Homo sapiens: one gene and its partner. The protein of the gene in region 2 interacts with the protein of the main gene of each other region in a pairwise test. Each region holds a gene or a part of one and is shown on either strand. Other genes may lie near its edges.

Region 1 (15,923 bases), on a different chromosome or scaffold from region 2:
CTTGCTGACGCTAAGCCTCAGTTTCAGAATCTATAATATGGATTTATAGTACTCGCCTCATCCACTGTGATGCATAAAAGCTCTAACATAGGCAAAGCATTTAGCTCAATGGCTTACACACAGCATTCAACAAATGCCAAGTATTATAAGGTCCTCAACAAATTAATGTACAGGTGAATAGTGTATTGAACTGTGATTGCTATAAGGCATGAAAGAGCCAATCCTGGCCTTAAGAAACTCCCAGGCCTCATATCATGCAGCACTCATGGCTGATGTTTGCTACCATAGAAATAGCAAGGATGAACTCTGACCCAGAGTTTTCCCTGGGACTCTAGGCATGACTGACCTCAGAGATGACCTAATTGATACAAGACTCTTTGATAGTAACTGTCCCTCCTGCTGATGCTTCCAAATTCTTTGCCCTTTCTCTTCTTTCCTCGTCTTTAGCTTCCTTTTTTCTGAAGTAAATACTAACACTTTCCCATCACAAATTAACATGCACAAGCAAATCTCTGACTTAAGTATAATTTTTAAAAATGTGCATTTAAACTAAATGAGTTATTCACATAGCTCCCTCACCTTGAAAAATACAAGGGAGAAAGGAAGGAAGGAGTTTCAGCGGTTAATCCAAAAAACAAGTGTAATAGTTTTACAACTGTTGGAAATCCATGGAAAAAAAATTTAGGGCAAAAAGAAAGAAAATAGTTTCAAGATTGAGTGCCAAAGGTATCAAATTACAGACCTGCTTATTATAATAGTTATACTCAAAATGAGAGTGCAACAGAGAAGGAAGTGAGTTTCACCACCTAGTCAGACCATCTCCTTTTACCATCTGATTGAACGACGATGCAGCTGAGACCCTGACAAGTTAAATAATTTTAACCATCATTACTTTGATTCAAAGTGTGGCTCGTGGACCAGCAGCATGAGCTTCACCTGGGAGACTGTTAGAAATGCAGAATCCCAGGCACCCCCCCAGACCCACTGAATTAGAATCTGCATTTTAACAAGCTCCATCAGGGATTCACCTGCACACTGAAGTTTGAGAAAGCATTAATACTTGTAGCCTACAAACCAGTAAGTTCATAAATTAGATCATTTAAACTTCATGCTGTATTTTTCTGTAAACTGTATACTGATTTTTAGATTTGTTAAAAAAAAAATTTAAATCCTTCGGCTCTGAATAATCTACCTATGAGTTTTATACTCAGGTTAAACTTTAGGGAATGGCTTCTGGAAGCCCTGATTGAGCCACATACATAATATAACGATGCTATTGAGATGATGGCTCTGCTACAACTTTCTCACGTATAACACTGCAAGAATAACAGCGCCCAAACTCAGAGGGTTACTGAGAAAATTAAATTAAGACATGGAAAGTCTTTATAATAATGCTTGACACAGAGTAAGGCTGAAGTAAGTATTAACTACTAACTACCAGTATTATCATCTTGGATAGAGTGTAGTATCATAGGTTTGCAGCCACTACCCATCCATCCTCATCTACTCCTGTTGCAGTGATAAGTATTTGAGACTCCATTCAGGATTAGAAATATTATAGTCTGTGGCCTCAGAAGAGAGCCAGTAAAACCCTTCAACTGGCAAAAAAGATAACAGCCAACATTGCTGAATTATTTCATCCAATGAGGGCTGACCTTGTAAGCCACCATGGATAGACACAGAATTAGTAAGTTCTAATAAAATCTGTAAGTAAAATGTACAATGTTGAGTAATTTTCAATAAGTATCGCTCTGTGTAGGACTAAATATTGAATTCATAATTTTAGACTGTTTAAAAAACAAAGTATAAATTAAAGTTTTATTATTGAATATTCAGTTCAATGCACTGAAACAGCAAATTTTGCTTCAGGGGAGTTGGCAGGAGTATATGCAACAAAGACCCAAACACTCAGAACGAATACAGCATGGGAAGCTGCAGTGGTGGACAGAACAAGTTATCACTTGCATAACAGACCAACCATATTGTTGACCCACTTATCTCAAGCACAGATCCAGGTTGGTTAAAGAAAGCCGTGGTAGGCAAAGCACTTAATTCAAAATATGTAAAATGAAAATCAAAAATTAAAATCACATTTTAACTTGAGTTTCTTACCGACTAGATTTAAACAATGGGTTTCAAGGTATGCAGGAAAAGAGTCACACAGGTGAGGACTCAGGGTCCCATCAATCAGAGACTGTTGCTAGCACCCAGGAGAGTGCCCCACAGCTGGACAGAAAAATGTACAGGACAGGATGTGGAGGCCGCACAGAGAAAGACACCACAGAAGCCAACACAGCCTAGAGCATCACTTAGGAGGGCCTAAAAGGAGACCAAGGAAGAGAAATTTCTGCTTCTTGCACAATAGGATTCCCAAATGGCTTCCAGAGTTTCCTGGCCAGGGGATCCACAAGTTCATAGCTGCCAGCAGGCCTTTTCCCCATTTTCTCGCCCCACCTCTGAGATTGCAGAGAATTACAATCATTTTAAGTATTTTTCTCAAGGCAGGTCAACTGTAGTAATAAAACAAGTTTTCTGTCAACACAGTCCCCTCTTATATATGTAAATATGACTACTCTACATAAATAGTTAAAAATGGCTAACACTTTAATACTATCCTTATTTTTTATCCCTAAAGACAAACCACTCTATTATATCTGAAGGCAAGCAATCTGTCATGACGAAATAGGATATAAAATGGCACAAGTGATAGGCTAAATAATAGCCCCCTTCCACAGATATCCATCTCTTACTCCCTGGAACCTGAGAATACGTTATCCTACATTAAGATCTTTATAGATATAATTAAGGAAGGATGTTCAGATGAGGTGATTATCCTGAATATCCTGGTGGGTTCCATGTAATCAGAAGAGTCCTTCGAAGAGGGAGGCAAAAATTCAGAGAGAGGGTGAGGTGTTTACAGAGGGAAGTGGCAGGGCTTGGGGGAAGGCAACGTGATGCTGTCATAAGCTAAGAACTGAGGACTGTCTCTAGACGGGCAAAGGCAAGGGAACAGATTCTCCCCCAGAGCCTCCAGAAGGAACCAGCCCTGCTGACACCTTTACTTTAGGCCAATCAGGCTGATTCTGGATTTCTGTCCTCCAAAAATATAAGATAATAAGCTCATGTTGTTTTAAGCTTCTAAGTTTGTGGTAATTTATTATAGCAGCAACAAGAAACTAATACGTATTTTTGTATCTGGAAGTGAGGTATTGCTTGTAACAAATACATAAAAATGTGGAATTAGCCTTGGAATTGGTCAGTGGGTAGTAGATAACTTGGAGCACCATGATATTAAATGGCTATTTTGCCTTAAAGAGACTCTTGTAGAAATATGGATGTTATAGACTGTGACAGGCAAGGAAAAAGTGAGGAGCATGGTAGAGAAAACCTATACTGTCTGAGAATATCCAAATATTCATAAACATACTGGTGGTAGCAATACAGATGTCAAAAGCCCTGCTGGTGAGGGCTCGCAAGGAAATGAGGAACATGTTAGTGGAAGGTGGAGGAAAGGGGATCCTTGTTCATTCATAGCGGCAGAATTAGATGAATTGGAAGTGGAAAGCAAAACTTGTAAACAATGAACTTGGATATTTAGCTGAGGAAATTTCCAAGCAAACAGTGAAAATGCAGCCTGCTTTATTCTTGCAGGAGAAAACAGACAAATTAAGAGAACTGCTATGCAAAGAGGAGCAAGATTAGATAATTTGGGAAATTCTTAGCCTATCTATACTGAAAAAGACAAAAAGTTAGGGGTTTTGCTGAAAGAAAAGTGCTTTGGAGAGAAAGCCATGAGTGCAGCTATACAACCCTTTGTTAATGCCTCAGAAGTTTTGAAGGATCAGGGTATTTAGTCAAACAGAGGGCTCTTTGAAGAAATTAAGCATATGAGTCAAGGATCCCCTCAGGCGTCTCAGCAGAAGCCAGAAATAGCAATGAATTATTCAAGAAAGATCTGCAGAGGAGCCTCTTGTGTAATGGAATGAATCCCTATGATATAAATGGGAGAGCCACAAGGTTTTTGAGAATGATTTACCATCAGGAACACTGTCAGCTGGAATTGAGAGGGACAAAAGAACAAAAAGAGAAGGAAAGAAAGAAGGCTATTTGACTCCCCAAATTCTTCAGGCAAAAGCCAGGGTAATAAAACAACTCACCTGCATATACATGCCACCCTTAACAAAAAAGGAGGTAAGGCACAGTGGCTCATCATGCCTGTAACCCTGACACTGTGGGAGGCCAAGGCAGGCAGACTGCTTGAGCCCAGGAGTTGAAGAACAGCCTGGGCAACATGGCAAGACACCTTCTCTACTAAAAACACAAAAAATTGGCTGGGCGTGGTACCATGTGCTTGTAGTACCAGCTACTCGGGAGGCTGAGATGTAAGCCTGGGAGGTGGAGGTTGCAGTGAGCCGTGATGGCACCACTGGGCTCCAGCCTGATGAAAGAGCAAGACCTGGCCTCATAAATAAATAAAAGAACTTTAAAAAAGAAGGATATTTTAGAGGGTAGAAATACAGGTCAAATGGGTGAAGCCAAGGGCCACAGAGAATTATCCCCAGGCCTTGAAACCTAATGGCTGAATTTTGAAATAGCTTGGAACCAGTGATTCTTTTTCTTCTCCTTTCATTTTCTCCCTTTTTGAATGGAAATGTCTACAACTATTCTCCAATGCCTATCCTACTCATTGTATTTTGGGAGTAGGTACCTCGCTTCAGGTGCAAAAGTGGGGAGGAATTTTGCCCCAGGATGAATCATACCCAGAGTGTCACATAAACCAGCTTTAGATAATTAAATGATGAAATGGGACTTAGGGGCTGATGATATTTAGATGACATTTTGGATTTTGAGTTGATTTTGCAATGGGTTCAGAGTTTGTGGGACCTTGGGATAGGCTGAATGTATTTTACAAAAGACAGATGTGAATCTTTAGGGGTCAAAGGGAAGACTCTGGTAGACTGAAAAATGCCCCCAACCCTACCCAAAGATATCTACGTCCTAATCCCTGTAACCTAGAAATACATTACCTTATATTCAACAGGAAATTTACATTTCCTTTTGTATTAGAGAATTAATTTGTATTAAAGTATTAAAGGATTACTTTAAGAGAAGTATTTTGAGATGGGAAGATTATCCTGAATTACCCAGCAAGGCTTGATACAATCATAAGGATCCTTATAAGAAAGAAGCAAAGGTCAAAGAGAAGGCAATGTGACAAAAGATGAAGGAGAGAGAAAAGGCAACATGATGCATGGCTGTGATCCAAGGACTGAGGATGGCCTTTAAAAGCCGGAAAAGGTGACAGTTCACAAGGACAGAAAACCAAATACCGCATGTTCTCACTCATAGGTGGGAACTGAACCATGAGAACACCTGGACACAGGGCAGGGAACATCACACACCAGGGTCTGTCGTGGAGTGGGGGGAAGAGGGAGGGATAACATTAGGAGAAATACCTAATGTAAATGACGAGTTAATGGGTGCAGCAAACCAACATGGCACATGTATACATATGTAACAAACCTGCACGTTGTGCACATGTACCCTAGAACTTAAAGTATAATTAAAAAAAAAAAAAAGCCAGAAAAGTCAAGAAGGTGGATTCCCCCAAGAGCCTACAGAAGGAGTCAGCCCTGCTGACACCTTAACTTTAGCCCAGTTGGGTGGATTTTGGTTTTCTGACCTCTAGAACTGTAAAATAATAAATACATGTTGTTTTAAGCTACTAGATTTGTGGTAACTGGTTACCTAAGCAACAGGAAACTAACAAGAATAGATACTAATTATAAGTGAATACTTAGGTAATAGTATGATCTATAATCTATACTTCACAAAGTATTTTATGAACATATACTAAATATGAATGTACAAATCCTAATTGCCCCGTTAGAAGTTCTTAAGTTTGTTACACAAAGACAACTATAAAAATTATATATTAGTGCAGGTATGCATATATTGGCTTTCAAATTTGAAGGCAGAAAGGAGAAAAAAAATGACATTTAGTGCAAGAGATCAAGAGTCTATTTCTATGTGTCTCATAAAAAAAGATTGTTGTAAGTACACTTAAAATTGAATTTAAGCCACTTAATTCTGGTGGCAACTGTGTTTTTCATCTTTATTTGTCACACCATGGTGTTGAGCACACCATTCTACACGATGTTGGTGTTCTTTAAATGTTTGCTGATTAAATAACTGACAATATATTAAAAAGAGAATGAGAAAAAGTTACAGCCCTAGCCAGGTTTTATTGTAAATTAGATACAGCTTTATTTCAAATTAGTCTACAAGGAAATTGATGCTAAAATAAAACAGATAATTATTCAAGTAGAAGTTTTTAAAAGTCCTCATAAGGTAAAACCAAAAATATATGCATATATACATAGAAAGGTTCAAGATGCAGATGGGCACACACACAAAATCAGTGTGCTTCACTATAACAATAACAAAATACACTCATAAAAATCATACCTGTCCTTAAAGTTGATGATATGGTTTGGCTGTGTCCCCGCCCAAATCTCAACTTCAATTGTATCTCCCAGAATTCCCACATGTTGTGGGAGCAACTCAGGTGGAGGTAATGGAATCACAGGGGCCGGTCTTTCCTGTGCTATTCTCGTGATAGTGATTAAGTCTCACAAGATCTGATGGGTTTATCAGGGGTTTCTGATTTTGCTTCTTCATCATTTTCTCTTGCTGCTGCCATGTAAGAAGTGCCTTTCGCCCACCGCCATGATTCTGAGGCCTCCCCAGCCATGTGGAACTGTACGTCCAATTAAACCTCTTTTTCTTCCCAGTCTGGGGTATATCTTTATCAGCAGCATGAAAATGGACTAATACAGTTGAAAAGGTCTGTACACAAATATAAATAAGTATAACTCCAGAGAGAGATGAGCCCTTCTAGGGTAGACAGACACTGATGGCTGCTGTCGCCACTGGGGCGTGAGTAGGCAGAAGAGCTAGCCTGCTACTGGCAAAGACATTTTGTTGGAATAAGAAGAATGAGCCACACTTGCGTCAGCCAAGCATGGGCTGGCATGGCAGATTGGAAAATGGAGAAACAGAGCTAACCCTCACTGCCAGCCAATTCTCCTTCATAATATTTCTGCTTACAAACGCTGGTGGTGGAAGAAGCTGGTAAGTGGATGGAAAGCAGAAAGAGATCCTGTGATCTCACATGGTTAGATCCCAAACTCTGCTGCAGGGCTAGATCTCACCATCAAGAGGAAAGCAGATGTGAAATTCAACTCAACTCCTGATTAGAACAAAAAGATCTGGCCTAGTCACCTTAGCAGCCAGAAGGTAGAAAGCATAAGACTTTCTGGGGATAAATTTTATCTACCTCAGTCTTTGTCCATTCAAACACAATTAAAAAAAAAACAAAAAGACAAGTGAAGCAGCAGGAAATATGTAAGCCATGATTAGGAAGGGAAAACAACCACAACAAAAGAACACTAGATAATCAAATGGTTGGAATTAACAGACAAGTACTTTAAAATAACCATTATGAGGCCGGGCGCAGTGGTTCATACCTGTAATCCCAGCACTTCGGGAGGCCAAGATGGGCAGATCACCTGAGGTCAGGAGTTTGAGACCAGCCTGGCCAACATGGTGAAACCCTGTATCTACTAAAAATACAAAAGTTAGCCAGGCATGGCAGTGTATGCCTGTAATCCCAGCTACTCGGGAGGCTGAGGTGGGAGAATTGCTTGAATCCAGGAGGCAGAGGTTGCAGTGAGCTGAGATCATGCCATTGCACTCCAGCCTGGGGAACAGAGCAAGTCTCCGTCTCAAAATAAATAAATAAAATAAAATAAAATAAAATAAAATAACCATTATGAATATGTGAAAGAATTTAAGGAAGAATGGATGAAATGGATGAAAAAATCAAGCATTTCAGTAGATAAATGAAAACTCTAAAAAGGAAGCAAATGCAAATTCTAGAATTGATAAATACAGTTATCTGGGGAATGATTAATTCACTGGATGGGCTTAATGGTTACTTGGACAAAACAGGAAAAAAAAAAAGATGAGCAACCCAAAGAGAAGACAATAAAAATTATCAAAAATAAAGCACACAGGAAAAGAAAATCGTTAATTAAAAAAACCTTTCATCAGAGTTCTATGGCATAGGATCAAATGGTCTAACATATATGCAGCTTCATTCTGAAAAATGAATGGAGTAGAATTGTTGGAAAAGATACTAGATGAGGGCTGGGCGCAGTGGCTCACTCCTGTAATCCCAGCACTTCGGGAGGCCAAGGCGGGCGAATCACAAGGTCAGGAGTTTGAGACCAGCCTGGCCAACATGGTGAAACCCCGTCTCTACTAAAAATACACAAAATTAGCTGGGCGTAGTGGTGGGCGCCTGTAATCCCAGCTGCTCAGGAGGCTGAGGCAGGAGAATTGCTTGAACCCAGGAGGCGCAGGTTGCAGTGAGCCAAGATCGCGCACTCCAGCCCAGGCGACAGAGTGAGATTCTGTCTAAAAAAAAAAAAAAAAAAAAGTACAAAATTGGTTCTCTGCTTAGACTAATAATATTGACAAATATCTTTTCTCTTGCATAAAATTTCTGAAGGTTTATGAACCCCTTGTGTGTTTATGGACCTCTATTTAGGAACTTCTTTTTTTTTGAGACAGAGTTTCGCTATTTTTGCCCAGGCTGGAGTGCAATGGCACGATCTCAGCTGACTGCAACCTCTGCCTCCTGGGTTCAAGTGATTCTCCTGCCTCAGTCTCCCAAGTAGCTGGGACTACAGGTGCGTGCCACCATGCCCAGCTAATTTTTGTATTTTTAGTAGAGACAGGGTTTCACCATGTTGACTAGGCTGGTCTCGAACTCTTGACCTCAGGTGATCCACCCGTCTTGGCCTCCCAAAGTGCTGAGATTAAAGGCATGAGCCACCATGCCTGGCCAGAACTTCTTTACAAATTCACATTATTTAAAATTCATGCAGCCATAAAAAAGAATGAGTTCACGTCCTTTGCAGAAACATGGATGAAGCTGGAAACCATCATTCTCAGCAAACTAACAGAGAAACAGAAAACCAGACACCACATGTTCTCACTCATAAGTTGGAGTTGAACAATGAGAACACATGGACACAGGGAGGGGAACATCACACACCGGGGCCTGTTGCGGGGTGGCAGGCAAGGGGAGGCAGAGCATTAGGACAAATACCTAATGCATGTGGGGCTTAAAACCTAGATGACGGGTTGATAGGCACAGCAAACCACCATGGCACACGTATACCTATGCAACAAACCTGCACGTTCTGCACATGTATCCCAGAACTTAAAGTAAAATGAAAATAAAATAAAATAAATAAAATAAAATTCAGTGGCTTTCAAGTACATGATCCTGTCGATCCTTGACAGCCATTTTTATTATTATCTATTCAGTTCTTGCAAGTCATCTTACCTGAAACTTCACCTTCTGATTAATGTTGGATACACAGAACTGCTTCAGGAAGCGCTCGTCCTCACACCAGAAGAGACGGATATCAGGGATGTCGTAGAGGATCATGGCTAGCCTTTCTAATCCTAGGCCAAAAGCCCAGCCGATTCGGTCTTGAGCACCAGCTGTGATTAGGAAACAAAATAGTTGTTTTTAAAAAGTATCGAGATTGGATAGGTTCATACCACTCCCTGACAGTTATCAGTGACACTAATTAGATGCCTACCAGCGGGCAAAGGCACTGGGCAGCCGCTACAAAGACATCCATGAGGGTGCCCAATCTTCCACGCTTTCTCATCTCCATATTCCGGACTGCCCTCATGAACGGATTCTGAAGTCATACTGTCTGGAGTACTGTCTTTCATTTCTGATTACATTCTAGGCTTTCTGAAGCACTGGTTCCTGAACTGAGTTATGATTTTTCTGTAGTCTTTGCTTGCTCTGATTCAAACATTTAGCCCACTGAATATAGGTTACAGAGTGGAAAGAAAAGACGGTCTCTGTCCTTAAGTGTAGTAGATAATGAGATACATTCAAAACATGCCATAGTGGCCATAACATGTTTAGAACGAACTTACATGAAGAAAGTACATACGTCATGCCTTTAAGAACCTCAGTTTTATTAAACACCATAATGCTTATTCTTACCAACAGCCACTTCAGCATTGCAGAGAACACAAGCAGGCCCAGACGAGGGGTATAACTAGCACCACCTACTCCAAAGGTACAGTGTCCTGCTCAGATTGTGTCAGTGCCATAAATTAGAAGGGTTTACTTCACAAACTGAGGCAGTGTAAAAGGGAAGATAGAAACTGCAGAATGAAGGCAGGCAAAGGAGCAGTTCACACTGCAGGAAAGCTTATGAAATGAGCTCATGAAAGGATATAATTCCAACTGGACACTAACAGATGAGTAGGATCCTGTGGTAGGCTGAGATGGCCTCGGAGACTCCCACCCCGCATGCACATGCCTTGTGTAAACTCCTCCCGTTGAGTATGGGTGGGATCTAGGAACACAATGGGAATTTAAGCCTGTGACTGCTTTACTTTTTATCTAGGACTCCATCTTGGCCGATTGGAGAGAGATCCACCTCCTGGCTGTGAAGAGGCCACATGGCTCGGGCCCTTGAGAAGTCCTAAAGGAGCTCAGAGAGGCACCAGCAGCCAGGGAGAAAATGGGAACTTCACTTCTACAGTGGGACGGAACAAATTCTCCCAATAGCTGGAGTGAGCTGATGATAGCACCCCAGCTTCAGAGTACACAGCCCTGCCTCTGCCTTGATTTCAACCTGGTAAGATCCTGATCAGGGGACCCTATCAATCCATAGCCAGGCTCCTCATGCAAGGATATTATGATATAGTCAATTCGTGCTATGTTAGGCCACTAAGTGTAATTTGTTACCCAGAAAAAAAAAAAAAAGCAAACAAACAAACATAACTAATCCAGATTCAAAATGTAGAGAAAAGTGATAGGAAATTCCAGACTGAAGGAGTTTCTTCAGTAGCAATGGGACGGGATGCAGCACGGGAAGGCTGAGGAGTGGATTCTGGAGATACAGGCAGGACTCGTCTCAACGAGCCACAAGAAACATTTTGTTCTCATTTCTACCTTGCATTTAATGTTTTCCTAAAACATAAAAAACTTGGCCAGGAGCGGTGGCTCACGCCTGTAATCCCAGCACTTTGGCAGGACAAGGCTGGCAGATCACGAGGTCAGGAGTTCAAGACCAGCCTGGCCAACAGTGAAACCCCGTCTCTACCAAAAGTACAAAATTTAGCCAGGCATGGTGGCGTGTGCCTGTAATCCCAGCTACTCGGGAGGCTGAGGCAAGAAAACTGCTTGAACCTGGGAGGTGGAGGTTGCAGTAAGCTGAAATTGTGCCATGGCACTCCAGCTTGGTCCACAGAGTGAGAAAAAAAAAAAAAAACCACCACCAACAACAGAAAACCCTTATAATTGTTTCACAAATCCCCATTCGCTCTAGCTGAACCAGAACATTCATGGAGCTTCAGGATTAGGTGTGCAAAGTCCAGGAGGGAAAAGGCTTCATTATAAGTGAAACACCAGCACCTGCGGTTATCACTTGGCATCAAGGCAATCATCAAGACAAATGGGAACACAGGCTATAAGCTACAGACAGATGGAGAGGCACTGGTCATTAGCAAAGAACTTTTTAAACATTTCCAGCACATCACAGGCTGATAATTTGGTCACATATAAAATTATGCACATGACATTCCACTCAACAACAACATAATTGACATTTTTTTCAAGTGTACATGGGTCATCCACCACCACAGACCATATTCTGGAACACAAAATACATTTCAAATATTTAAAAGGATTGAAATTGTACAAAAAAAGTTCTATGTCCAAATGCAAATAAATCAGAAATCAACAGAAAAATATCTGAAAAATCTCCCAAATATTGGGAAATTAAACAACATACTTCTCTAAGTAACACATGAGCCAAAGAAGTCATCACAAGGGAAATCAGAAAATATATTTAAATGAATAAAAATTAAGATATGACACATTGAAACTAGAACTCGTAAATTATTGGGTGGGAATGATAAAACCACTTTGGTAGTTTCAAAAACAGTTTGGTAGTTTTTTACAATAAACCAATATTTCTCAACTGGGGGCCATCTTAACCACCAGGGGACATTTGGTAAGGTCTGAAGACATTTTTGGTGATCAAAACTGGGAGTGGGGAGCATCCTGACATCTAGTGGGTAGAGGCCAAAGATGTTGCTAAAGATCCCATAATGGACGGAATGGTTTCCCACCACAAAGAATTATCCAACCCAAAACATGAAACAGAGAAACCCTGAATTAAACAGACACTTAGCATATGACAGAGCAATTCCATTCCTAAGTATTTACCTAAGATATGGAAACATGTGCACTGGAAGTCCAATGCAGCTTAATTCAGAATAGCTCAACCCCAAAACACCCAAAATGTCCATCAACCAGTGAATGGAGAAATTGTGGTATATCCATATAGTAGAATTGTCAAAGGCATCTGAACCAGAGTGACTCCATCTTGAGTAGGAGCTGGGTAAAATAAGGATGAGACCTGCTGGGCTGCATTCCCAGGAGGTGAGGCATTCTGAGTCACAGGATGAGATAGGAGGTCAGCAGGGGTGGTATCACAAGATACAGGTCACAAAAACCCTGCTGAGAAAACAGGATATGGTAAAGAAGCAGGCCAAAACCCACCAAATCCAAGATGGCGACAAAAGTGGCCTGTGGTCCTCCTCATTGCTGGTTATATGCTAATTTTAATGCATCAGCATGCTAAAAGACATTCCCACCAGCACAATGACAGTTTACAAATGCCATGGTAATGTCTGGAAACTACCCTATATACTCTAAAAGGGGGAGGAACCCTCACTTCTGGGAATTGCCTGCCCCTTTCCTGGAAAACTCATGAATAATCCACCTCTTGTTTAGCATATAATCAAGAGATAACCCTAAGTATTATGCAGTGGAACAGCCCATGCCACTGCTCTGTCTATGGAGTAGCCATTCTTTTGTTTCTTTACTTTCTTAATAAACTTGCTTTCACTTTACACTGCGGACTTGCCCGGAATTCTTTTTCACACGAGATCCAAGAACACTCTCTTGGGGTGTGGATCAGGACCCTTTTCTGATAGCAGAATATGACCTAGTAATAAAAATAACTTATTCCTATACAGAACAAAATACATGAATCTCAAAAGAATTATGTTTAACAAAAAGAGATTAGTCACTAAAGATTATCTACAATATGAATTCAATTCTCATGACATTCTAGACAAGGCGAAACTATAGAGACAGATAACAGATTGGTAGGACATAAGAGAACTTTTCCAGGAGATGGAAATTTTCTCTATCTTGATTGTGGGGTGTTTACATGACTGTATATATCCTTCAAAACTCATGTAGCTATGTTTTAAAAGTATGAATTCTGTTGTGTGTAATACTACTTCAACAAACTGGCATTTCAAACATACTACACTTGAATGACACGGCAGTACCAAGTCAAATTGCTGTAAGTTTCTCAACGGTTACTCTCAGCCTCTGTGGTTATCTCCTTGTGAACTGGAAACTGATAGTTTGTGGATCAGCACCATTCTGAGCACCACACTTTGAGGTGTAATGATTTAAATGATATAGAACATGCCAATATAGCTTACATATATATTTAAACCCACAAAGTTAAGACGTTCCATAGCAAACTCTTACATATTCTAAGTGCTGATCCATAGACCCCCTAGGAATCTGCAGACTGCAAGCTGAGAATTATGACTGGGAAAGAAAATATAACCCCTAACAACAGCACCAAAGGCCCCTCACACCTGGTGCTGGGCCCACCACCTCAGATTATCCACAGTTCTCTAAACATCATATGTCCTTGTCATAATATAGCGGATCTTCCTAACACTTGCCCCTCTCCTAAAGTAACCTGTCATGGTCCTCTAAAACTTCATTGAAGTATTCTGACTGTGAGATTCTTCCTCTGACCCTGAAGCATTAAGTTTACCTTCATTTCCCCGTGACAAACACGCTGTACATATTTCTATTAGCAACTATCACATTTACAAGTTTCTCTCCCCATCTAAACCTGAGAGTTCTGAGAAAACAGTCCCTACACAATGTCATACACAGTATTGACTACTCCATAAACGAGTTTTAGACATATATCTGTGCTAATGAGAAGAACATGTGCTTCCCACACAGTGGATTCTTTGAGTCACTCTCACAGCACAAAGCTGAAGACACGACAGTGCGAATGAATGATGTCTCAGAGAAAAGCAAAAAAGGGCTGGTGTTCTGAAAAGCAAAGTTTACACGATGTTCACAATTAAGGGTTGGGAGGCTAAAGGCGTACGGAAGAAGAAAAAAAGCACTAAATGCTTCATTCATTGCTTGCTAGACACTGAATACCAGTTTCACAGATGAGAAATGGAAATGATCACAAAATGCTCAGAAGTAACAGCATTGAAGGGAATAAATACCATCTAAAAGGTAAATCTACATTCTATTATGTTTGTCAAAATAGAAATATCAGAAACAATAAGAAATAAAGGTATGAGTCCAAAATCGAATTATCATAAAGTTATGGAAAAACAGAGAAATTTCCCATTTGCTATCTTCCTCCCAGCTGAGCCAGGGAGCTGCCAAGCACAGCAGTCCTGAAGAGGCCGGACCCACGCATGCACTGCCAAGCGGGACAGGTGAAAAACATGGCTCAGGTAAAGGGCGAACGAACTTCACATAAGAGGGAGCCCCATGGTTGCCATGATGATGGCAGTCTAGGCTCCACTGTAATATGTCTCAGAGTAAAGGAGGACTTGCTTTTCCAGACTGATGTGGCACGTCTTCTGAATGGAGCAGGGTGAGACGGAGCAGAGGGAGCACCGCCAGCTGGAAATCACATCTGCAGAACACGGCGAGGGGAGGCTGGGCTGTCCTGTGTGACGAGGTAAGCTGCACACTGGGAGTAATGCTGATGATGAGAATTCAGTTTTTCGCATTTGAAATGGCCACAAGAGATAGTTGCTCCTGCCATTCCATTACTGCCATACAGAATGGCTTAACATCAATGAGTCTTAAAATTAAAGTCATTAATCACATTGGCTAATATCCAAGAATTCACTGAAAAGATAAAAACAGTTACCTTCACAAATACAACTTCCAATTGCTTTTCTCAGAAGGCTCACTGCAAAGCTACACTGCTAAAAGTCAGATGTTCTAGAGCTGGTTTATTAGAAATGTAGAAATGGTTGGCCGAGTGCGGTAGCTCACACCTGTAATCCTAGCACTTTGGGAGGCCAAGGCGGGCAGATCACGAGGTCAGGAGATTGAAACCATCCTGGCTAACATGGTGAAACCCCGTCTCTACTAAAAAAATATATACATATATATATATATACACAAAAAAAATTAGGTGGGCATGGTGGCGGGCACCTGTAGTCCCAGCTACTTGGGAGGCTGAGGTAGGAGAATGGCGTGAACCAGGGAGGCAGAGCTTGCAGTGAGCCGAGATCGTGCCACTGCACTCCAGTCTGGGCCACAGAGCGAGACTCCTGTCTCAAAAAAAAAAAAGAAATGTTCACTGGCCTAAGTGGATGATTGGCAGGACCACACTGAAAGGTTGATGGGGGAAAGGAAGGCTGATGGTTGTGCTGGGGATATGCGTGACTCCAGGGCCTCAGTCCCATGTGGCTGTCAGTAGGGACACCCTCTTCTAAAGAGAGGAGACTGGCTCTACCTGAGAGGACCCAGTGCTGAGGTGACTGAGGGGGTCATTCCCGCGGGCACATAAAATCCCACCACCTGTGTGTCAAAGCTTATGGACCAGACCCTCATGGGGAACAGAGAGCAACTGGACTTCAGCTGCCTACCACTGCCTACAACCTTTCATTCGCATAATCATCCTAATAAAAAGTTTGCCTGTGACAATCAATTTTCATGGAGGGTT
Region 2 (15,819 bases):
CTTAGTACTATTATCTGGGAGATGATGTCATGTAAACCCACATAGATCTACCTCATTCTTTTTTTTCTTTTTTTTGAGATGAAGTCTGACTCTGTTGCCCAGGCTGGAGTGCAGTGGGGCAATCTTGGCTCACTGCAACCTCTGCCTCCTGGGCTCTAGCAGTTCTCCTGCTTCAGCCTCCTGAGTAGCTGGGATTACAGGGGCACGCCACCACACCCGGCTAATTTTTTGTGTTTTAGCAGAGACAGGGTTTCACCATGTTGCCCAGGCTGGTCTCAAAATCCTGAGCTCAGGCAATCTACCTGCCTTGGCCTCCCAAAGTGTTGGGATTACAGGCGTGAGCTACCGCACCTGGCCTACCTCATTCTTTTTAACAGCTACATTCAGTTTCATTTTTGAATATGCTGTAATTTATTTAACCAGTCTCTTACTGAGAGAGAGACAGACAGAGGCCATATTCTACTTTTTGTAATGGTTAAACATTCTTGACCATATCTCTTGGGTATTTTTGTGAATAGTATAATAAGCCTCCATATACTCTTCAAATAGCTTCAAAAATCAACTCATGAACAGTCTTATATCATCTGTATCTCTATCCACTGCCCTAGTCTCACCACTTTTGAATTGATCTCAAAGCAACTCTCTGACATTATGTTATTTCATCTGTTAATATTACCATCCATATGTATCTCCAAGAGACGACTCTTTCAAAATATGGCCACAATACCATCATCACCTCAAAAATGAACAATTATTTCTTATTTAAAGTGTTTAAGAATATGACAGATATTTCCAAATTAATTTCCAAAATCATTGCACTAACTCCTTTCCCACCAAAAATGCTTCTTATTCCTTTCTCTTTTATCTCTTATTATGTTAGGAATCACTCGGTTAAGAACACTTAACTTTACCGTTTAAAAAAAGCTCATGTTACTTCAAAATACGCATGATCATAAAAATTCTTTCATTATGACATTTGTGTGTGTGTGTGCTGACGAAAAGAAGGAATAGAAAAGAATTACAAGAAAAGAAGAGAAAACAGAAGTAGATATTAGCCTCCCTCCCACTCTTGCTTCACAAAGTCACTTCCCAATTCTTTCATTTAACCACCTACATTTTTCAACAGCTATTGAAGGCAGAGGAGGGAGGATAAACCCAATACACACTTGTGGGTTTGGTCTACCATTTGTCCAGAGTTGGGGAGACAGACTTTAAATGGCTTTGCTTTTAGGCAAAAAAGAAGGAAAATGGAAGAGATAGAACAGGAAATACTAAAAAATGAGTAGTTATAATAACAGATTGAAATATGCATTTACTTCAATGTTTACTAAAACCATTCCTGAGTTTATGGACAATGTAGGCTTTCTTTTTTTTTTTTTTTTTTTTGAGACGGAGTCTCGCTCTGTCGCCCAGACTGGAGTGCAGTGGCGCGATCTCGGCTCACTGCAAGCTCCGCCTCCCGGGTTTAGGCTATTCTCCTGCGTCAGCCTCCGGAGTAGCTGGGACTATAGGAGCCTGCCACCACGCCCGGCTAATTTTTTGTATTTTAAGTAGAGACGGGGTTTCACCGTGTTAGCCAGAATGGTCTCGATATCCTGACCTCGTGATCCGCCCGCCTCGGCATCCCAAAGTGCTAGGATTACAGGAGTGAGCCACCGTGCCCTGCCTGGACAATGTAGGCTTTCAAGTATAGCAATTCCCTTTTATCCATGGAAGGATATGTTCGTGACCTCCAGTGGATGCCTGAAACCACAGATAGTACTGAACCCTATATATAGTATGTTTTTACCTCTACATACATAACTATGATGAAGTTTAATTTATAAATTAGGCACAGTAAGAGGTTAATAACAATAATAATAAAATAGAACAATTATAATATACTGTAGTAAAAGTTACATAAATGTGGTCTCTCTCTCTGAAATTATCTTATTGTACTGTACTCACCCTTCTGATAACCGAGGTGGCTACCAAGTGACTAACAGACAAGTGGTCTATAATACAACATGGATACACTGGTCAAAAGGATGAATCACAACCTGGGCAGGACTGACAGAGACAATGGAAGATTTCACCGTGCTACTCAGAATGGTGCAGAATTTAAAATTTATGAATTGTTTATTTTGGGAATTTCCCATTTAATAGTTTTGGACCACTGTTGACCTCAGGTGGCTGAAATTGTAAAAAGCAAAACCTCAGATAAGGGGACTACTATATGTATTTTCTGTTTGACTTTGGCAAAAGTACATAAATTATTTGTTTCCCTGTCATAGGGACATTTTGATGTATTAGTACAAATGAATCCAAGCCAGATATATTTTAAACATGGAGTTTTAAAATGAGAGAGAAGAGCATAGCAAAATATAATATTATTATCTTGATCATTTTTTGGTATATTTTTCTTTCTTCCCAACTTCTTCCCTTGGCAAAATCTGTTCCATGTATCCCTATATAGTAGAATTGTTTTCTATCTTTACATACCTTTTCTATCTGTGAGAAGTCATTTATAAGTTTGTCAAGATTCACACTGCTAATCTTTTTCATACATCCTTCACTGCTTTGGTCCATGCCTGAAAGTAGTAAACAGTAGATAGTGTTAAATAAATAAATAAGATCTAAAGCACCACAATAGTGTTCATAGCTCAAATACTAACATTTCTATATTCAACTCATAGGGCACCTACTTGGGCTCCATTGCACTGCGAGAATTTTTGTTATAACCAATATTAACAGTGGTCAAATGCATTGTCTTTTCCACTCCTTACCACCCACACCCCAGTTGACTTATTTATATTTGTTTCTTTACTGCATTAAAACCTAATGCAATATTAAATCTGAGGCATGACTTTTAACTGTAATTATTCTTAATTAAAGATGTTAAAAATACTTGTTTAACTATCATGTCACAGATGTTTTCTGCTGTTATGCTTATTTCTTATATTTTGTTTGGTAAACTGGTAAATAAAAGATGCATGGAAGTTAATGTGCTCAAAGCAATCTCTCTGCATTTCTATTGTCTTGTAATTTTGTATAAGGGATTAACCTTTGGGGATAGCCAGCTAACTGCTGAAGAATAAGAGTTTCAGTTTTAGTCCTATGAAATCAATCATAAGAACTTCTTCAGAATCCCAGAATGTAAATGCTGGCTATTTTGCAAAAGTCAATTTATCCATTCTGACTGGATGAGTTTACATCTTCAGATGTAATGTAAACAAGTATGAGACACTTGTCTTTAGATTTTTCTATAGCAAAGAAGAAAGGGAAAATACAAGTTTGAAATTCAGGGATGTTAGGTTGAGGAAAAAACATGAACCAATGTATGGTGTGTGAAAGCGGTAACTAGTCCAAAGTAAAATGTAAGTAAAATTCCTGATGTAGTTACTCAAAGCAATTTGGGGGCATATTATTGTTTAAAAGGAAGTTAACCAAAACAGATATTGCTTGACAATATGTTATTTCATCAAGATATCTCATTTTCTTCTTTTGAAATATTTTGCATTAGCAATTATTAATGGTTTTTAAATCTCAGATTTTTGGCTGTATATTTTGTTTCTTGAATTATTATCTCGAATTATTATCTTATGTATGACATATGCAAGCACAACTACATATAAAATCCCTTAAATAGTTAAAACTTGATCCTTACAGCAGAAAAATATTTGTTAATAGCCTCCCATGATACAGTAAAATTCCTTTTGGAGTAAAATTAAAAATAATTGCTGTTTGATAGTACTGTTATTCTTTAATAGTGCTACATAGTAATCTGAAGTAGTTAATGGAAACTCCCTCCACCCCCACCTTTTTTTTTTGGTACCTAACCTTTTAAATAAAAAAGGTTTTACTAGGGTTTTGTCTCAGAATCTGGCTCTTGAAATAAATGCATTTAAATTTGAGCTTGATTTTCTCTCAACTCCTTCCCCCAAAGAAGACCCTGTTATTTCCTTGTAAAACCATCACTAATATTCCATTTGCTATCGTTGCATGATATCCCTTTTGCCATAATGGCAGAGCCAGGCAATTCATTTCTAGGTATCTTCATTGCCTGCTCTTCTGATTTCTTAGGTCAAGATCCTTTCAGTGAATATGGTCTTGCCCTGTGAAATTCGGTGTCAAGCTGGTGATTCAGTGCTTGTCAAATTCCTTAGTGAGCCGCAGAGACTGATTTGTGACCTTCAAGGCTCAGCTTCAACCGTCCCCACAGGCAAGTGAAAGTCCCATTTCCTTCTTTGTCTTCTTGCCTGCTGGCTTCAACCATCCCCACAGGAGCGTGACAGTTCCGTTTCCTTTTGGGTCCTCCTGTCTGCTGGCTTGAGTCCCGGGGCTCGTCCTCTCCCCTACCCCACACAGTTGGTCCTTCGCCGCTCGCCTGCCCCACGCTCTGGTCCCTCCTCTTTCCTCCTCACCTCCCCTCAAGAATTCACTCTCAGTCCTGAAGCCTGGGTCCCCTGGCTCCCTCTCCGTCATCCTAGTGTCCTTAGGGACCTAGCAGAAATAAAGGATGGGGGCCGAGGACCCGCGGATGTGAGAGAAGTGCCTGAGACAAAAACCTGTATGGACCCAGAGCACTGTAAGGAGATAAGAAGAAAAGCATCTCTATGGAAAAAGCGGGAGTTTCGAATCGCTTTCTAGCGTCCTTAGCGGCCTAGCAAAAATAAAGGATGGGGGCCGAGGACCCGCGGATGTGAGAGAGGTGTCTGAAAAGAAAAGCCTGTAATGGACCCAGAGCACTGTAATGAAATATGAAGAAAGGAATCTCTATGGAGAAAGCGGGAATTTCGAACCGTCAATAGAATTTGGAGTGTACCTGCTGTTGCTCCTAGTTCCCCACAGTCTCCCTTTCCGCTGCCTCTGGGGCCTGGTACACCCCTGAATGCTGTCCCCTCCTCCGGAAGCCGAATCCCCCAACAATGGGCCCGCCTTTCTCTGGGCCCGCCCTGTGCGCTATGCTGGAGCTCCTACCACCAGCAGTTCTTACCAACTTGGCCCAGCTCCGCTCAGCATCTGCGGCTGCTTAGGTATTTTCATGTGGTTTCCAGAACATGAATCAACACCGGATCAATAATTGTTTCCCCAACCAAAGAATAAATCACATTGGGTGTTCTGAATTGTGAGTCAGCTCCATTGAATAAATAATTATCCATATCTATTTTTGTAACTTATAAAATTGCCTTTTAAAATTCCAGAGCCAGTTAATAGATATGGTTTCCCATCTACAGAGTTATATCTTGGTAGCTTAATGATTAAGGGCGTGGGCTCTTGCGTGGATTCAAACCCCAACTCTTCTCTTTTTCCGTGGGTGATAGTGGGTAAGTTCTTAATTTCATGCACCTAAGCATCTTCATCTGTATAAGAGATTAATTATAATGCCTGCCTCTGCCGGGCGCTGTGGCTCACGCCTGTAATCCCAGCACTTTGGGAGGCCGAGGGGGGTGGATCACCTGAGGTCAGGAGTTGGAGACCAGCCTGGCCAACATGGTGAAACCCCGTCTCTACTAAAAATACAAAAATTAGCCAGGCGTGGTGGCGGGCTCCTGTAATCTTACCTACTTGGGAGGCTGAGGCAGGAGAATTGCTGGAACCCGGGAGGCGGAGGTTGCAGTGAGCGGAGATCGCACCATTGCATTCCAGCCGAGACCCGCAGCAGCAAGACTCAGTCAAAAAAAAAAAAAAGAAGCCTGCCTCTTAGGACGGTTGTGATGATTAAATGAAGTGATGCATTTATAAGGTGCTTAATGGAGATCCTTGCTTAAAGTAAGTGTTCAGAAATGTTAATTATTAGAATTTTTGAATGTTGTTCAGTAATAGTTTGAAAGCGAATCCACTGCCAACTTTGCTCATCTGCTTTTTTTTTTTTTTCTGAGTGGGAGATGGGAGGTTTATTTTTGTTAATGTGATTTTTCGATAGACTCCAAAATTTGGCAAGTGAAAAAATATAAACAGTAATATGATAACCCATACTTTACTAGTTGAAAGGTAGTGTGGCATAATGGCAAGAAAATTAGGTTAAAGTGGAAAATGGGGGTTGTAGTCTTCACTCTGCTGCTCAAATAAGCTTTCCCTAACATTAGTAGCAACACATAGAAATATTGAAAATGACCTGCTGAATTGCGGGTTCTACCCAATTAGCAAATATAAAATGTTCCATGTAACTCATGTCATAATAACTTTTGAAACAAGCCCATTTTAAGACCCTAAATGCTAAAATGCTACCTTCTCCATGAGTCATTCACTGATCGTATCAATCAGTTGTGATCTACCTTTCCTTACTCTATGGAACATGCTAGCTTTCTGTGGCATTTGTTAAGACTGAATTGATGTATTACCTCTTTTGCTGTATTTATTATTGGCTCCTTGGGGGAAGAAACTCTATTTTCTTTATATATATATATATATATATATATATACACACACACACACACACACACACGCGCATGTATGTATGTATGTATGTATGTATGTATTAAGTTCCACCTAGGCCCATCCTAGGCAAATTTCAGGAGTCCTTTGAAAATATGTGGTGACTGGAATGTGTAAGGTGGAGAGGGAGCTCCCTAGATCCCCTGCCTCATCTGTACTTCCAAATCTTCTGGATGTTCCAACATTTGAAATACAGAAGCTTTGACTATCTAATGATTTTGGGATGTAGAGACTAAGAAAGTTGGAATATTATATATATATATATGTATATATGCAAACACACATATATGTATATATATATACACATATATATGTATATGTATATATTTCTCCATAGAGCCTACCATAGAGAAAATAGAAATGAACCAACACATCAGGAATAAGTCAGAAAAGTTTAGCTTAATTTTTCTAGTTTAGAATGGGTTGCAAGTTTATCTTCCAGTTTATAGATGTTAGCATTTTTTTCAAAGAATTCTAGTAGGTTTAGAGTGCATCTTTCAATGAGAAACTAAATGAACTTGTCATGATTTCATCTTTAAAAAGTGAATGTGTTTCACAGTTGTATTCACAGTCTTATTCTTCAGATACCATCCAACTGAGAAACAGAATTCATCAAATATTTGCTCAGAAAATATTCATTTTTGCTTACTACTTGGATGTGGGATCATTCATACACCACATGTCAGCAACATGCAATTTACTCATGTAGCAAACTTGCACATGTACCCCCCAAGCCCAAAATAAAAGTTGGGAAAAAAGAGAATATTTATTTTCTGATAGATCAAGGATTTATTTAATATATATTTTAAGACTGCCTGGAAAACCAAAATAGAGAAACAAACTACATTATTTTGTCATACTAACAAAGAAAGTAACACTGGAATTCATTAAAAATACCCTGATTTGGAAGAGAAATGCATATGTACCTGGGCAGCTGAAAAAAAATCAGAAGCTACCGGTTTATGTACATAAAGATCTTAAAATGAGTGATACATTGATTTTTTTAGGTTGAAAACAGCTTCACTCATTAATTCATTCTAAAATATTTAAGTACTTACAAAACATCAGCTGCTGCAAGTCTAGGCACTAAGGAGAGCAAAGACAAATAAGAGACTCTCCTTTTGCCTTGGAGCTTACAGTCTCAAAGGAGAGACTAGCAGAGGATTGAAATCTAGTGTATGTTATTGGCAATATTGCTCTGGCATTGGAATCTCACTTGATTATTTTAGTTACTATCACCGGCATATTATAACAACAAAATATTATGGTGTTGCTCCCATATCACAGCAAATGTTTATAAGTGGTTTGGCTAATCTATGGAGTCCTTTGTTCCAGCCCTATTATTTAACTCTCTCGATATTCTTACCTCTGTTTAGGCCATGCTTTTTGTCTTTGAATCAAATTCACCAACTGCTGAAATTTCAGCTTGCTCTCATTTCCATGAATATTTATTTAAAAATGCTACATACATATTTCACCTATACAAGGTGAAATATAAATTAGAAATTGAAGAGCAGTAGAGAAATAAAACAGAAATACTCTGGCCTGTAGGTCAACAAAGTTTTTATATTTCTGCTACAAATTTGGCTTTGAATTTACTGATGGTTGGAATAAAAAAGGATACAGGCTTAACTACTTAGTTTATTTATTTATTTTTGTAAAAGAGGAGAAAACATACAAGTTTCTCAGGAGGAACCATGTTCCCTAACTCTAACTTCTTAATTTTTCACATTAAGATTCATATAGGAGGCACTGGATAATTTAATAGGCAATTTCCTCAATATTAGCCTGAGAGTAAAGGTGGAAATGAGCTTTTTAAGACACTTTCGAAGTATCTCTATGAAAAAGGCTAGATTGGATCAGAAATGGCAATCATAATGAATCATGATCTAGGCCCCTGCTTTTCAAAGTGTGGTCTCTGCACCAGCAACATGGGCATCGCCTGCGGGCTTGTAAAAATGCAGTCTCAGACTCTATCCCATAACTGCTAAATCAAAGTCTGCATTTTAACAACATTACCAGGTGATTCATGTGCATATAAATGTTTGAGAAGCATTGATCTTCTGTGTAGAAAGCTTTTAGAGCTTTTTATTTCTTTCCTTTGCCTTTTTAAGATTATCAGTAATTACACATTTATTTATTCAAGAAATACTTGAGCACCAACTATGTCCTGAGGTCTATGAGAAAACTAGGAATAAACAAAACAGATTGGCCCCTGACCTTAGAGGACTTATAGTTTAAAAGGGAAATAGGTAATACATTGAGTAAATTACCTATACATAAAATTGTAATAAGTGCGAAGAAACACAAATCTATGATATCGATTTTAAAAGTGAGTGGGAGGTGCTTCAGTTACAGTGATTGAGGACAGTCGCTGAGTAGATAAGATAAAAGTGAGAACTGAAGGGCTAACATTTTAATGTACCCTTCAGGTCTCACTTTTATTTTATTTACTCAGCGACTGTCCTCCATCAAAATGTTAGCTGTGGGTGGCTGGGCATGATGGCTCACGCCTGTAATCCCAGCACTTTGGGAGGCCGAAGTGGGTGGATCACTTGAGGTCAGAAGTTTGAGACCAGCCTGGCCAACATGGCGAAACCCCATCTCTTCTAAAAATATAAAAAAAAAAAAATTAGCCGGGCATGGTGGCAGGCACCTTTAATCCCAGCTATTAGGGAGGCTGAGGCAGGAGAATCCCTTGAACCCCGGAGGTGGAGACTGCAGTAAGCCGAGATCACGCTACTGCACTCCACAGTGAGTGACAGAGTGAGACTCTGTCTCAAAAAAAAAAATGTTAGCTGTGGGCAACATTTAAATGCTAGGGTTACTTTTAACCTCTACTTGATCTCTTGATGCACTATCTCCCTCCTCTGGTTTCTCTACGTAATTCTCATATTTCAGTATCTGTTTCTGGACCATATTGTCTTGGCTTCAACTGCAACTTTGGCTTCGAGTTCTGTAGATCTCTAGCTCTCAGCATTTCCTGCAGTAATTAGGTAAAATACATTCCATGCATCAGGTTTATGACCCAATGGAACACTGTTGGTTAGACTAATCCCCATCCTTTTCCAAATGGACAGGGGAATTTGAACATGATTCTAAAATAAAGTCTAAACCGTGCAGTACTTGGATTACTTTTCCTGAAACAATCCTACTTAGATATATAAATATTCCATCTTTTAATGAGCTTCATTAAGAGTAGAATCAATGTTGCTATCTGGGCAGAGTTTGCATTTTTGGATGAGGACAGGAAGTGAAGCTATTCTACTTAATTTATTGACATAAATATACTTTAGATAGTGAGTCTATGGTAAGGGTAGTATTTTTGTGATAATAAAATAGTCTAACCAGCTTTCAATGGCCTTGTATTCAACAACTACTTGGAGGTGGCTATGTGGTATTCTCAGAAGAAGTCAGACTTTTTCTCAAAATTTAGTCTTAAGTCTGTTCCAGTACATAAACAAGTGATCCATGATGGCTTCAATGTCATAATAGAGCATAAGTTTGACAATTTGGGCCTAAAATATTCCATTGCTCCCAGAGAACATCAACTTTTTCATAACCTACCTTCTTAGTGATAACATTGTTGGTGGGGGCAGGTTAATGAGCCTTTCAACATTCCTAGCTTCAGATCCTGGCTCTGCTCCTACTAGTTGTGTGGTCCTCAGCAAGTCAATTTATCTCTCTGCCCTTCCATTTCATCTTTATAAAATGAGAACAAACCTCTGAAGATTAGGATAAATGTGTCAAACCTGGGTTGGCTTTGAGTAGGCCAGAAATAAATATTTGTTGAATAAAAGAAAGAATGAACCAATGAACAATGTTAGTTCCTATATCAGCAAGCTTTTGTGATACAATAGACCATTCTAAAATGCAGTGCTTTGAAACAGCCATTTATTTAGCTCATGCTATTTAAGGTCAGCAGTTTAAACTGGGATCAGGTAGGCAAGTTTTCTCGTCTTGGCTGGGTTCTTAATGCATTGGCGGTTAGCCATCGTTCAGGTAAGTGGCTTAGCTAGTTTTACTCATCTGGGCCGGGCTCTCAGTCTCTGGAGACTTAGTTGGTATCACTCTTGTCACTTTGCCACTTGGTCTCTCATTCTCTAGCAGGCTCAGCCAGGCTTGTTCTTAAGGAGTTTAATCATCCTGAGAAAGAAATCACAGACATGCAAGGCCCTCTAGAGCAGTGATGCCCAACCTTTTTGGTACCAGGGACTGGTTTCGTGGAAGACAAATTTTCCACAGACTGGGATGGGGGGATTGTTTTAGAATGATTCAAACACAATACATTTATTGTAGACTTTATTTATTTTATTATTACATTGTAATATATAATGAATAAGTATACAACTCACCATAATGTAGAATCATTATGAGCTTATTTTCCTGCAACTAGACGGTCCCATCTGGGGGTAATAGGAGACAGTGACATATCATCAGGCATTAGATTCTCATAAGGACTGTGCAACCTAGATTCCTTGCATGCACAGTTCACAATAGGGTTTGCACTCCTGTGAGAATCTAATGCCACCACTAATCTGACAGGAGGTAGAGCTTAGGCGATAATGCAAGCAATGAGGAGTGGCTGTAAATACAGATGAAACCTCGCTTCCTCACCTGCTGCTCACCTCCCGCGGTGCAGCCCAGTTCCTAATGGGCCACTGACCAGTACCAGTCTGTAGTGTGGGGGTTGGGAACCCCTGCTCTAGAGGACCAGGTTCAGCACTGGCCTACAGCAACTTCCACACATTCTATTGGTAAAAGCAGGGTACAAGGCCACGCAGACTCAAGTAGCGAAGAAACAGACTCCATCTATTGATGGCAGGAGCTGCAAAGGGGGTAAATACAGGAAGGTAATAATTATAGCCACTTTGCAAAAAGTTTACCAATAATTACCCTTACATAAACCTGTCAAAATAACAGTTCCATTATGCAGGCCTAAGTAAAGGGGGAAAAATAGTTTGTTGTATTAGTTAAGAGAGGACATCTGCCAAATGATTTTTGTGTAAGAAAAATTGAAATATGCTCATTCATTCTAATAGTAGTTAGCAAAATAAAGTAACTTTTGAGATAATGCTTTTTAAAAATCATCTACATATAGGAGTGTACATATCTTCCTATGCAGTTGTCAATATTTGAGCAATATCAAAAAAGAAATGGAGAAACTGTAGAGGCAGATGACTCTTAAAACACAGTGAACACAATAGCGAAGACTTGGAACCAAGGTAAATGCCCATCAATGATAGACTGGTTAAAGAAAATGTGGCACATATACACCATGGAATACTATGCAGTCATAAAAAAGGATGAGTTCACATCCTTTGCAGGGACATAGATGAAGCTGGAAACCATCATTCTCGGCAAACTAACACAAGAACAGAAAACCAAACACCGCATGTTCTCACTCATAAGTGGGAGTTGAACAATGTGAACACATGGACACAGGGAGGGGAACATCACACACTGGGGCCTGTTGGGGGGTCGGGGGGCTAATGGAGGGTTAGCATTAGGAGAAATATCTAATGTAGATGATGGTTGATGGGTGCAGCAAACCACCATGGCACGTGTATAACTATGTAACGAACCTGCACATTTTTCACATGTACCCCAGAACTTATAGTAATAAAAAAAAAGAAAAAGAAAACCACAGCGAACAGATCCAATTTGGATGTGCTTCACCCTCTGACTCCTACAAAAAAAGTAATTCATAGCCCTGCCATTAGTGTCTCCAGAAAAGATTATAGTAAAAACCAAACCAAAACAAGCAAAAAATGAACAAATTGAAGCTAGATATATGAATAGGCAGTATAAGGCACAGCAGAGTGTCTATAAACGTTGAGGATATCATATCTTCTTGAAAAGACACTTAATGAGGTCAGAAAGGATCAAGATTTTGTTTGATGAGCCCAAACCCTCAGTGAGAGGCCTACTCTTTGCCATTTTACTTTCACTATTCAGTTAATTCTACCTCAGGCAACTGCTTTCTCACCACTATAACCACATCTTTCTACTGTACACAGGTTGTGCCCACTAGTCTTAAGGAATCTTTATCTCTCTCTCTCTGGGATCCATTCCTATGTTATGAAAATGAAATTATGGCAAATAAATGCAGTGTGACTCACATAAAAGAAAGTATGACATAGGAAACCACTACACCAATGCTGCAGACCTTGGAAGTGTCTGTGAGTCTTCTTCATCATTCTCACAGAAGCCACCATCTGCCTCCTTGTTCTCTTCTGGTCAAGTGTTCTTCTCCAACATGAAATGAAAGATAATTTCAAAACTGTGTTCTTTTCAAGTGGTGATCTGATAGTGTTCCTATGAAAAATACATCCAGAATGCTTAACAACTAAATTAAAAATCTGGGATGAATTCATTTGATATAAAATAAGTAAATTCGATTAATTTTTAAGTGAAAATTCTTAGTTTGACTTCATAATACCTAGAAATATTTAAACAGTATAGGGTATCCTAAACAAAATAACAAAGATTAAAAGGAAATTACAAAACACAAAGCAAATGCTTGCAAAATGTCCAGTCTTCCAGATTAATCTATGGATTTAGGGCTAAACCAACAAAAATTGTTTAACTAGTGTGTGTGTGTGTGTGTGTGTGTTTGCATGTGTGCGTGTTGCTTTTAAAACCAATGAAAACTTATTGAGGTAGATATTGTTATTTTTAGATATTTTAAATAACATCTCTTAGCATATAAAAATGGTTTGCTGTTTCAAATGGCTCCACCTGGTCATGTAATAGTGGTTTGCGGTTTAAGGAGTAGTGGCCTGTTTAATGCAATTAAACTGTTTAATTCTAGAGGGTTCAAGAAAGTTGAAATAATATGTTCATAAGCATTACATTTAAACCACCTATATTCACAAAACAGTATTTTGGGAAAATGTGATTCTATCAAACTTCAATAACAGCAAATGTAGCATTAATTAAATAACTGAAATTAAACAAAAAAGAAATAAAGTTATTTTTAAGGGAGAAAACACAGTCAAATGTCTTGTAGATGTTCAGAGTCGGCAGCTGTGAAAGCTGTCAGCCTGTATGTGACACCAGATCCCTGAGTCCTCACAATGCAATCCTCCTTCTCTGAGGACCTGAGAGTCTAGCGGATCTCCTGATCCTCTCTGGCCTCTGCCTGGGACTGTATGTGGAACAGCAATGACAAAAGGGGCCACCTGGAAAAAACTGAAACTTAAACTCTACTTCTACCAAATTTTGACTGTTGTGACCATTTTCTCTTCGTGGCTCTTTGAATATCTTGTTAGTTCACAAAGCTCCAACGATCTTTCTAGAGTTTTTTCCTCATGGCAGAGAATACTCCTTTGATAGAAGGAGCTTATTCTTACCCCAGGCTTTCAGCCATCTCCCTGTAGGAGCTGTCTTCAGATGTATGTGGCCATGTTTTTATATATTTTGGGAAATTTTTTGGTTTCTCTCTTGTAAGTGGTAAATTCCTTCCTCCATTAATTTTCTGCAAAGTTGCATTACGTGTTCTTGATGCAGTTCAAGCACTATCTGAAGTTTGAGCTGAGGCTTTTGAATTTCATTTTTAAGCTGTGCATTTCAGACTATAAATGTTTGCCCAGTTTGGAAACTTTCCATTTGAACTCTAAGTGCTTCTTTTATTTTCTTCACAGAAACTTTAAAAATATATTTTGTTTTTCTTCTTCAAGCCTTATTAAAGGAAACATTTAAGTTAACACTATCAATGAGGTTTTTTTTCAAGTCGACTTTTGATTGATAAAGATTATCAATAGTGGCTTCCATTTTCTGATTCTAAAGAGAGCTAGTAATCTAATCTAATTAGAGACCATAAGTGGTTTTCAGTTACTTACAACCTGTTCCATTTGCATGTTAGAGTTGTTAAACATTTTTATTTGTTCCTTTGGTTCCTGCACTGCTATTTTCACCTTCTGGCTTCTTGGGAAAGCAGTTTTAGGTTTTCCTAAAGATGAACTTTTCATCCACACAACTCATTTTCCTCTAAAATGGACTCCATCCTTCTGAGATTCTTTTAAGAGGATTTTTTTTGACAGTCACTTAGGATTTGAGATATTTTGATGCATCATTGAATGACAATGTCTGTTTTTGAAGGAGAGCCATCATCACCGAATGAAATGAAACTTCAGGGAGCTCTATTTTATGTTATTTGTTGAGAAGGTCTAGTGTATTCTTGATCAAAGATGTTCATATTGTTACTAATATAAGTGCTGCCAAATTCAGAGTTGTAACCTCAGAAGACATGCCTCCACTGGAAGTAACTTCAGGGCTTCTTGGGCTTGAATAATCAATCTAATCTCACTGAGTTTACAATATTCTTCAACTAAGGCAGAAAATCCTTCAGTTATTTCTTTTTCCCTTTTTAAAGTATGTTGACTTTTTACTACTAAAAATGATCATAGTAGCAGAGATCAGAATCTCCCAGGTAATTGTGTATATAGTTTAAAGAGAATTAAAGATATAAATAGTAATTTATTAATTTATATCATTTATAACTTTTACCAAACAATTCATCCACTGACTTCATATGGCATTGAATGCTTCTCAATTTGTTTAGTGTCACTGTCTCCTCAGCTACATAATGTGCTTTATAAAAACCTTATTCCCATGTCTTGAGTGATATTGCTGCAGAAAGGTGATTTCCAGTTCCATTTAAGTCATTATAGTCATCTTGAAAGAGTTTATGTTAGGATTTTTAAAGAAAGAATCTAGGTCAAACAGAAAGAAATGACAGCCTGTTCCCTTGACTGAAGGCTCTGGGCAGAAAATCAGCTGCTGAGCTAGGAAGTGGTAATATAAAATGAGCACTAACAAAATACCTTATAACCAATTTTAGGGGTAGATGGGATTAAAATGTTTTATATCTGAGCCTGGATGGTAAAAAGAAGTTGACAAAGAAAATCCAATATCAAACCTTTTGTTATTGGAGGCTAACTGTGGGTAGAAGTGCTGGGCCCCAAACCCTGTGACCAGAGCTGGCCAGGCCACATAATTTGTGGAGTCCTGTGCAAAATAAAAATGTGAGACCCCTATTCAATTATTAAGAATTTCATGATGGAACAGCAGAACATACAATCAACTGTGGGCCCTTGCAGATGGCCTGAATATTTGTGTTCTCCTCCAAATTCATATGTTGAAACCTAATCCTCAATTTAATGGGATTAGGAGGCGGAGCATTTAGGAGGGGATTAGGTTATGAGGGTTCTTCTTCATGAATGGGATTAGTGCTCTTATAAGGGGCTGAAAAGACCAAAGTTCTCCCCTTTGACTATGTGAGGACACAACTTAAAGGCGCCATCTGAATAAGAAAGCAGTCCCTCGCCAGATATAGAGATACAGAATCTGCTGGCACCTTGATTTTGAACTTCCAGACTCCAGAACTGTGAGAAATAA

What was found.
Region 1: the proteins of CCDC152 (region 2) and FARS2 interact in binary tests that used the Homo sapiens proteins (3 or more experiments, as listed by UniProt).

Annotation. Positions count from the first base shown.
Region 1 is NC_000006.12:5,538,836-5,554,758, reverse strand, and holds part of FARS2 (phenylalanine--tRNA ligase, mitochondrial), read right to left. Parts: intron 9,580-15,923; coding exon 9,419-9,579; intron 1-9,418. UniProt on the Homo sapiens protein: Is responsible for the charging of tRNA(Phe) with phenylalanine in mitochondrial translation.
Region 2 is NC_000005.10:42,745,871-42,761,689, reverse strand, and holds the start of CCDC152 (coiled-coil domain-containing protein 152), read right to left. Parts: upstream 4,873-15,819; 5' UTR 4,805-4,872; exon of another isoform or gene 4,465-4,804; coding exon of another isoform or gene 4,404-4,464; intron 2,571-4,403; coding exon of another isoform or gene 2,569-2,570; coding exon 2,482-2,568; intron 1-2,481.